Linked DNA regions of Homo sapiens: region 2 is linked to region 1. A link means that fine-mapping ties the variant in region 1 to the expression of a gene that starts in the linked region. Tissue or cell type: monocytes. Region 1 holds a variant in brackets; the other region holds the start of a gene. All regions are shown on one strand. Distances are between the middles of the regions.

The links. PIP is the estimated chance that this variant, and not a neighbour inherited with it, causes the effect.
Region 2: CHLSN starts here. The variant in region 1 is fine-mapped to the expression of CHLSN in monocytes (TOPMed, PIP 0.99).

The regions. Positions count from the first base shown.
Region 1 is chr7:1,043,340-1,048,539 of GRCh38, forward strand. All of the region lies in intron 2 of CHLSN (cholesin), which reads right to left. It overlaps GPR146 (G protein-coupled receptor 146), which reads left to right and starts at 1,207. Exons shown (of 2, transcript NM_001303473.2): 1 at 1,207-1,319. RefSeq lists an enhancer at 326-881 and silencers at 987-1,476, 1,657-1,706. The variant G/A (reference allele first, on the strand shown) is at 2,302.
Region 2 is chr7:1,135,977-1,141,080 of GRCh38, forward strand. It overlaps CHLSN (cholesin), which reads right to left and starts at 2,271. Exons shown (of 5, transcript NM_001318252.2): 1 at 1,339-2,271. RefSeq lists silencers at 1,831-1,880, 1,891-2,340, 2,541-2,680 and an enhancer at 2,401-2,500.

The DNA.
Region 1 (5,200 bases):
GAATGCAGTGGGCAGAGGGCCTTCTTTTTAGTAATCCATAAAGTAATGGCATAGCTAACACTAATCAATCGTGTCTTAGGTTTGATGAAATACGGACGTATCTACCTCAAAACAATGGTTGAGGCTCAGAACAGAACCTGACACAGAATACGCCCTCAGGTATCGGTGTTGGCTGCTTGTGACTGACTTTGGCAAGTAAGATCAGTACCCGGCACCTCTGGGCACACAGGGCCCGGGCTGCATCCACTGTGCCAGGGACCTGGTGCCGGGCTGGGCAGCAAGTCAGTATCACATCAGCAGGCGTGGGCCGTGGTGAGCCTCTCCCTGCCCTCCCGCTGGAATAGAAAGCTGATCCCGACGTCCCACTCCGACCCACGGTCAGGAAGCCGTCCTGTCCAGGAAGGTGGCTGAGGTACATCCCTGAACACAGTAGGCCACAGCATCATGCAGCGGAGGGCCAGTGGCCGCTATTCTTCCTGCTGGTGTTCCACTCGGCCCGCAGCTCACAGCAAGTCTATGCGGAACTGTGCAACCCACATGCTTTGATTTTCAGAAATGTTCTTAGATCCTGAACCAGAATGTGCTGCAGGGGGGACTGTTTCACCTCAAAAATTACAGCAAAGTAAATGTCCTTGTTTCAACTTTTCCAATGTTTAACTTGTAACAATAGCTACAAAAGTAATCAGGCAGCAATGTGTTTCTTTAAACGGCTTTCCTGTGAGTGTTCCGTTTACAAAGAAAATCCTAAAACCAGGAAGTAATTGGTGACTTTGGAAACAGCAAGCAAACTTCGGTGAAGAAAGAGGGGCAGGTGTACCTGGAAGGACTAACTTGCAGCCACTCATTTCCTTTGGAGGGCGGTGGGGCCTGCACCCTGCAGATTAGGGTATATTCTGACTCAGCAAAATAGGCACCAGCGCCTGTAAAAAGAAACCGCGCTGGGCACTAAGAGAATTCTCAAAAACTCCCAGAGCCCTGGGTGTGTGTCCTCCCACAGGGAATCTCGCACGAGTTCGTCAAATGGCTGGTCTCAGGTTACACAACCAGCACTGCCTCCACCGCCACCGCCCCCCAACCTCACTGGTCCGAGCGGTTCCCCGCGGTCTAGCCGCGAGGGCGGGGCCGGGGGGCGGAGGCCAGGGCGGGACCAAGGCTGGGGGCGGGGCCAGGCATGGCTGCCGCTCGCCGGCCGGGGGCGGGGCCGACGGTCACGTGTGTACACAGGGCCCGGGCGGCGTGCGCGCCGTGAGCCCCGCCGCCTCCGCCAGCCCGAGCTGCCCGCCCGGCGGCGACTGCGCCGGCCGCCGCCCAGCAAGCCGGTGAGTGGGGCCCGGGAGCCTGGGTCGGGTCGGTGGGGCACACCCCAGTCTCCGCCTGGGGAGGGAGCCAGCCCCAAGCTGCTGTGGCTCCCACGGCGGGCGCTGCGCTTACTGGGACCCGGGTCCTCTGGCCGCTGCCCACTGCGGGGCTCCGTGCCCTTGCCAGGAGGGGACCGCTGTCCTCCGGCCGCGCTCCGAGCTGAGCCCCGGGGGCGGGCTTTCGGTCATTAACCTGGTGATGGCAGCTGAATCTGCTGCTGGCGTAGGCGGCACAGCGCCGCCACCGGCTCTCCCATGTCCGACAGGGCACCACTGATCCTGCTCTCCTGGGCCACTATGGTGACTGCTTTCGGCCCCTTCTGTGATTAGTATTTTAAAGTGAGTTTTGGATCTGTGTCTACATGGAGGTGTCGGATCTGCTGTCAGTTGTCTTGGACAGTTGGCAGGGCATGGGACGGCTCTTTCAAAGCTTCACTGGAAGGCAGTGCTCTCCAGCCGCCAAACCACCACTACCAGCAGCAGAAAACCCACTATTAAGTTAGTATTACAAACCTGGCAAGTCAGTTCTCTAAATTAGGCATAAGTCTATGAATCTTGATGTGACTGGTCACAGTGGCTTATCTCTGCATGCATGCTACGTGGTGGACCAGAGGATAATTCTGTATTCGTCGTCCACAGCCTTTGATCTCTTCCCTGCCCATGAAGATGTACTTGAGTCCTCCATTCCACTTTAAATAGCCAGCTCCTGTCCACACGGAACAGCACGACATCTTTTATCTTTTGCTACCTGCAGCACCTAGCAGAGGCCAGCATTCAATAACAGAGGGCCAAGAGGCTTGCTTTAAAGGCCTCTGCAAACTTGTATGAGTAAAATGGTTCTGACCATGTTCCCAGGCTCCTCACGCATAGTGGTGATGAGATAGTCTACCGTCCTAACTGGGGCACCGTTGAGAGTGAACGGAGGCACTGTTAATAATTAGAC[G/A]AAGTGCACACTCACAGTACCCATGACCTGCTGTGCAGCTCCTTCAAGAACTACTGTAAGGCCTGGCTCCCCAACCAGAACCCCTGTTGTCTTCCTCAATGAAGAAGGCCTCTGAAGACAAGTGACTTAAGAACATAGTTTATATGTATTGAATACTGTTGTGCCTTTTCACAGAGAAGAGGTCGGGGCCAGAGCAGCTCACTGCCCGACGCCACACACATCCGTGCTGGCGTCCACGTGTCATCCTGCCTCTCTAGCCAGCATGGACATATCCTGAGGATGGAGGACAGAGGAACACAGATTTAGGGCAGAATGTAAATGTGAAAGTTGACTTGGAGTCCCTGCAACTCATAAGCCCCAGTAGGCTGATGAAGAGAGAAGGGCAAAGGGCGCGCACCTCATGTGGGTCTTAGGTTAGGATGTAAAGGCTGATTATGTCTATCATACAATGAATCAATGGCATACTGCACAGATCGCTGCATGGGGAAATATGCTCGTGTAATTTACAGTCGGAAGAGGGACATGCTGCTCACTGGGGCAGGGAGAAGAAGGGGCTCCTCAGGGAGCTGCAGCTCTCACAGCCCCTAGGATGTCACCTGGAATCCTGAAAAAATAACTGCCGCCTGGCCTTTAATGACCCAACCACAGCGAGGTCTTGCCTTTGCAGAAGGAAATTATCACCCAGAGAACCCGGCCGACCGTGTCATGCACACGACGATCCCACGGTGCTGTTTTCTGTCAACAGTGTTTCCCAGCCATTCCCTCCTGCCTGCCAGCTCCTCTGCTCTCCAGGGCTTTCACTAACCCACCTGCCCAACTGACCAGCATTAGGCTGTCCAGTTAGCCCACATCTGTCCAGGGGTCTCAAAGGCTCAGGACCCCAAGACACCATCCAGGTAGCCAAGAGGACAGGGAACCCAGTCTGGAGAGTAGAATAACGTTTCGCTCCAATTTGAGATCCCAAAATGAGATGCTGCCCGGGACCAGAAGTCAGTTTCTTAGGAGCGTGCTGTCTACCCAGGAGCCTCCGTGTGCAAACAAAATACCCCCTTGAGCAGCAGAGGGACAAGGTGGAGGTGGGGCAGGTGTCTGTTCATCCCCACAGAGCCACACCCAGGTCCCTTCCTGCAAAGGCCAAGGACTTTCCCCATTTTAATTGGAACCAAAGCAAGCCTTGCAGACCACTGTCGCTACCACAGCTAGTGTGATGAGGAGAAATAACCTGCTGGCTCCTCCCTGGGAAACAACCAAGGTGGTGATAAGATCTGCGGCTCAGAGCACTTCCCTGCAGGTTAAGGCCACGCCTAGTAAACCGGGGCTCGACTGAGGAGCCCCGGCAGGTGCCAAGCCTGCCCAGAGTCTGCAGTAGAGACTCTCTGTTCTTGGCCATGTCTTTGAATTTCTGAGGAAGTCTTTTTTGTTTGTTTTTGTTTTTCCCTGGTCTGATGTACCTGGAGAGGGAATTAGCCTCACACCCAGTTAGGGAACAAAAAGCCAAGTAAACAAAAGAATGCTGTTCCACCTTCCTCCAGGGAACTGGCGCCCATAGCTGCAGGCACAGGTGCCCAGCCCGCTCACTGGCCCAGCAAGGTGCTTGGTCTCAGGCCCCCAGAGCCCGTCCTGGAGCCGCAAACATGCTCGCTATTATCCATGGAAAAAGAGAGGCATTCTCTTTGTTTATAGTCTAAGCCAAGTCACCTGATTCACTCTCACTACTCTGCAGTTTGGAATTGTAAAAAGCAAAAGGCTACAAAAATCAAAACCATCCACCTATGTAATGAACCATTTCTTATCACAGCCCAGGAAGGCACAGATAGGAATCAGTGTGCGTAAGCTCTCCACGTGGAAACCCTGTGAAAACAGCAGCCTTTCCTAAGCATCTGGCTCCTAGGAGCTGGATGTTAATTGTTGCTAAAGCCTGGGTTCATTACTACAAAAGAAAATAAACATTCCAGAGTCATTTTGAAAGCATTTTGATTGTTCTAGAATATTCACCCAAGGTTGAGCGTCTCATGGTGCATGGCAGGTTCGGCCAGGAGCTGGCCGTGGCCTTTCCACTCCTTTCCTGCCATCCTGAGGATGCAGTGCCTGGGGCCTCGCAGTTCTCTTTCCACTCAAATCTAAGGCTCTAAAGCTTCAACAACTGTCCGGGGACAATAAGAAGCGCTGAGTCCCCATCCTGCCTGCTCTCCTTTCTACTCAGTGGGGAAATTGGATCACTCGCCTTGGTGGATCACTCGCCTTGGGGAAAAGCCTTTTACGTCACTGAATACATCCCCTTCTACGGTTTTCATCCAACAGTCAGCCAGGCTGCTGCAGCACACATAAAAACTTCCCCTGCCTGCAAAGAGCTCCAAGTAGGTGGGAAAGAGATGGATGTGCGGACAGGCTTAACCCAGCAAAGACTGGCGGAGGGGTGTGGAGACAGTGGTCAGGGGTGGGTTCCCGGGGGTACTGATGCCCAAAATAAAATGTCAAGGACGAGCCAGTGTTTGCTGAGAGAACGAGGGGAAGCGAGAAAGGGTGTTCTAGGCAAGGGATCAACATCCGCAAAAGACAGTGTGAAAGAGAGCACCCGGAAACTTCGTGGGGATCACCGGGCGTGGGACTTGCCGGCCCCAGCTCTGACAGGGCCCTAAGCAACAGAGGAAAGAACTTCCCGACTAACAGGGACAGCAACATCAAAAGCGATGGCTTTTGTGAAACTAATTCAGCCACCTTGGAGCAGAGGATTCCTCTGCTGGTTTCTGTTTCTGCCAGCTCTGTGCAGTGCAGGCGCTATGATGCTCTCTCTCTCTCACACACACATACAGGGACCCGGGTGCCTCTCAGGTTGAGAGGGGTGGTCACCATCCCCACACTCAGGCCCCCTCTGTCTCCAGGCCTGCTGCTTCTGAAC
Region 2 (5,104 bases), 93 kb after region 1:
AAATATATAAGCATATATAAATATATATATAAAATATATATGTATATATAAATATATGTATAAATATATAAGTATATATAAATATATATAAATATAAGTATATATAAATTTATATAAATGTGTATATAAATATATATACATAAATATATATAAATATATACATAAATATATAAATATATATACATAAATATGTATAAATATACATAATTATAAATATATACACAAATATATAAATATATATAAACATATATAAATATATAAAATATATATAAATATATATAAACATATATAAATATATAAAATATATATAAATATATATAAACATATATAAATATATATAAACATAAATATATAAATATATAAACATATAAATATATATAAACATATATATAAATATATATAAATATATAAACATATATATAAATATATATAAACATATATATAAATATATATAAACATATATATAAATATATATAAACATATATAAACATATATAAATATATAAACATATATAAACATATAAATATATATAAACATATATAAATATATATAAACATATATATGAACATATATAAACATATATAAACATATAAACATAAACATATATAAACATATATAAACATATATAAATATATATAAATATATAAAAATAAATATATATATGCGGATGTGTGTATAAACTGTGTATATATATAACTATATATATAACCATATATATGTACTTATATATATCATCTACACATATATCATCTCAAGCTTAAGAATTCGTAATCAATACCCCTGATCACCCTCCACAAACCTGAGCTTCCTAGTGTTCATCCTCTCCATAAACATCCATCTGATGAGGTTCACATAGTAGCTCAAGCTTAAAACCTTGGTCCATCCATAAATCCTCTCTTTCTCACATACTCGTCCAACCCACCACAAACTCCTGTTGGTTTACCACTGAAATACACCCAGAATGTGACTCCCTTAAGATCCCATAGGTACCCAGTCCAAGCCACCACCTCTCACGATGGCTTTTAAACTCCTAAATCAGATGGTGTGTCACCTCCACTCAAAAAACTTCCCAAGCTGTCCCCTTCCACTTGGAGGGAAAGTCAAGGTCCTTGCCACTTGGTAAGGTCCACACGACTGCCCTGGCCCCTCCTCGCATCTCTGGGAACTCACCTCCTCTTTCTCTCTCTGTTCCCAAATTGGCTGCAGCCACACTGGGCTCCCTGCTGTTTCCCCTGCACCTGCTGTTTCCTCGACCTGGAATGTTCTGGTGCCTCACTCCTCCTCCTGCTTCCTTTCCATTCTCAAAACCCCTGTTCTCATCTTCTCCATGGCACTTACCATCACCTGCTCTGTGCACCTTGTTCATCTGTCTCTCCCCTCCAGAATGGAAGTTCACTAGATCACAGACTTGTCTCCACTTGTTGACAGCTGTAGCCCAATGCCCCGAACAGTGCAGGAGGAACCCAATGAACGTTTTTTAAAAATGAATGAATGAATGACGGAAGGAAGGAAACGGAAAGCATGCTTATGATGGAAAGTGAGGCCAAGCGCGTTGGCTCACTCCTGTAATCCCAGCACTTTGGGAGGCCGAGGCAGGAGGATCCATCGCTTGAGCCCAAGAATTCGAGACCAGCCTGGGTAACATGGTGAGACCCCATTTCTACAAAAAACATTTTTAAAAATTATCCGGGTGTGGTGGCGCGCGCATGTGGTCCCAGCTACTTGGGAGGATGAGGCGGGAGGACGGCTTGAGCCCAGGAGGTGGAGGCTGCAGTGAGCTATGATCACGCCATTGCACTCCAGCCTGGGTGGCACAGCGAGACACTGCCTCAAAAATTGAAAAAGAGAAAGTGGGAGCTGAAAGCCTCGGAGGGCAATCAGGGCGTCTTCAGAGAAAGACAATGAAACCAGAGCCACTGCAAGCCCTGACGGCCTGAAACCTAGGAGCCAGCTGAGTCCCTTCCACTCGCCCGCGCTGAGTTAACCCAGAGGCGGGTGCGGGTGTCGGAGCCCGCGCCGGGACGCACCGGCCGCACCGGCCGCACCAGCCTCCCCAGCACCGCGGACCCCAGGGCCGCCGCCCGGTCGCGCCGCGCCGGGCCTCCGCGCACCCACGTGGAGGGGGCGGAGCCCCGCGGGAGCCCGCCCCGGGGCTCTGGGTCTCCTGGCGCCCTGACCCGCCGGCCACCCCGCCGCCGCCCCACGCGCCTACCTGCGCCCACCTGCGCCCACGTCGCCCACCTAAGCGTGAACAGCTGCGTCGCGGACGCCGCCTTCCGGCAGGGACCCGCGCCCCAGGTAAGCGTTAGTCCCGCCTTCAGGAGTGCGGAGCCTCCCATTGGACGAGGTCTGCGTCCGTCTCTCCGCCGGCTAATGGCAAGCGGCGGCAGCACGGGGGGCGGTTCCAGGACCGGGCGCGGGCTACTGACGCCATCTCTAGAGGCCTAGAGTTGCTTGGAGAGGAGCTGGTTGCCAAGGCAACCCGCCCTGCCCAGAACAAGTGCAGATGACTAGGTTTGGGCCCCGCAGGGCTTGGGGGTCTGGGGTGCAAGCTGCCCCGGCCGGGCTGGCGTCCCGGGGTGGGGCCTCCGCCGAGGGTCCAGGGTATGGAGCTCGGCTCGGAGTCGAAATGGATGAGCTACGGCTATTGGGATCAACAGGGCTAGGACTTAAACTTCGTGCTGAATTTAAAAAATCAGGATAGGTGCTAAAAAATACACAGGGTGGGTAGTGTTATAATAATGCTTGTGTCCGGGAGCGGTGACTCACGCCTGTGATCCCAGCATTTTGGGAGGCCCAGGCGGGCGGATCGCTTGAGCTCAGGAGTTCGAGACCCGCCTGGCCAACATGACGAAACCCCGTAACCCCGTCTCTGCTAAAAATACAAAAATTAGCCAGGCGTGGTGGCAGGTGCCTGTAATCCCAGCTACTCGGGAGGCTGAGGCAGGAAAATCGTTTAAGCCCGGGAGGTGGAGGTTGCAGTGAGCCGAGATCGTGCCACTGCACTCCAGCCTGGGCGACAGAATGAGACTCTGTTTTAAAAAATAAAAAATAAATTAAAAAAATAAAAATTAGCCGGGTATGGTGGCACGTGCCTGTAGTTCCTGATACTCTGGACGCTGAGGTGGGAGGATCGCTGGAGCCTGGGAGATGGAGGCTGCAGTGAGCTATGATCAAGGCACTGCACTCCAGCCTGGGCAACAGAGCCAGACCCCGTCTAAAAAAAAAAAAGAAAAAAAAGCATGCTTTCAAGTCACCCAGTAAGTTAAGTGCTTGGCAGCCGTATCAAGTATGATGTACGTTGCCTCAGGAATCCAAAGGTGACAAGCAAAGAAGGTGCACTCTTCCTTACTGGTAGAAGATTGTATTTGGTTCCTTTTTCTGCATAACAAATTAACCCAACATTTAGCAGCCTAAAAGAACATTTATTTTTTCATGGTATCCGCGGTCAGGAAAGTGGGCGTGGCTAAGCTCTGTGCCTTTGCCTCAAGGGTTCACCAAGTTGTGGTCAAGGTGTCCCCCCAGGGTTGTGGTTTCATCGGAAAGCTTATCTGGAATGATCCACTCCCAAGCTCACACACACGGATATTGTAAGGACTCAGTCCTCCAAGGTCATTAGAGAAGGGCCTCAGCCTTGCTGGCTGCTGCCCAAAGGCCACCCTCAGTTCCTTGGTACATGGGCCTTACCACAAGGAAGCTCACAACACTGCAGCTGGCTTGCCTTAGACGGTGCAAGCACACACAAGAGGAGGCACACACAAGACGCACATCACAGTCTCCTTGCACCCTAATCTCAGAAGTGACTTCCCTAGGCTTTTGCCATATTCTGTTCATTAGAAGTCGGCCGGGTGCGGTGGCTCACACCTGTAATCCCAGCACTTTGGGAGGCTGAGGTGGATGGATCACTTGAAGTCAGGAGTTCAACACCAGCCTGGCCAACGTGGCAAAACTCCATCTCTACTAAAAATACAAAAATTAGCCAGGCATGGTGGCATGTACCTATAATCCCAGCTACTCAGGAGGCTGAGGCATCAGAACCTATTGAACCCGGGAGGCAGAGGTTGCAATGAGCTGAGACCGCGCCACTGCACTCCAGCCTGGGCGACAGAGCAAGACTCCAGCTCAAAAAAAAAAAAAAAAAAAAAGTGAATCATGGCCAGGTGCAGTGACTCAGGCCTGTAATCCCAGCTCTTTGGGAGGCTGAGTCAGGAGGATGGATGGACACCAGGAGTTCAAGACCAGCCTGGGCAAACAGTAAGACCTCATGTCTACAAAAATAAAAATAGAAAATTAGCTGGGTGTGGTGGTGCACGCATATAGTCCCAGCTACTTAGGAGGCTGAGGTGGAAGGATTGCTTGAGCCTGGAAGATGGAGGCTGCAGTGAACTATGATCACACCACTGCACTCCAGCCTGGGTGAAAAAAAAAAAGGAAAAAAGGAAAATAATTTTTTTTCATTTTTATTTTTGGAAATTGATATGGTTTGGCTGTGTCCCCACCCAAATCTCATCTTGAATTGTATCTCCCATAATTCCCATGCATTGTGGGAGGGACCTGGTGGGACATAATTGAATCATGGGGGCAGTTTCCCCCATACTGTTCTCTTGGTAGTGAGTAAGTCTCATGAGATCTGATGGTTTGATAAGGGGAAACCCCTTTTGCTTGGTTCTCATTTTCTCTCATCTGTTGCCATGTAAGATGTGCCTTTTGCCTTCCGCCAAGACTGAGAGGCCTCCCCAGCCATGTGGAACTGTGAGTCCATTCAACTTCTTTTTATTTATAAATTACCAGTCTCAGGTATGTCTGAATAGCAGTGTGAATACTGACTAATACAGAAATGCTGAAAGGACTTGGATGCAATGACATCCCAGTGGCACTGAGCACTCCTGGCACCCAGAACACTGCTCCTAAATACCATCCCCCATGAATACGGACCAGGGCTCCTGGGAGAAATGGCTGATCCCAGGGCTGTGGCAGGGAGAGCTCAAGATGGGCCTTGAATAGGTAAATCTGAACATCCTTTACAAGATAGCCTTGTAAGGCTCTCTGGGGTCATCTTCACACATTCTCAGGCGATACCCTTGTCAGGCTATCTAGGGTCATC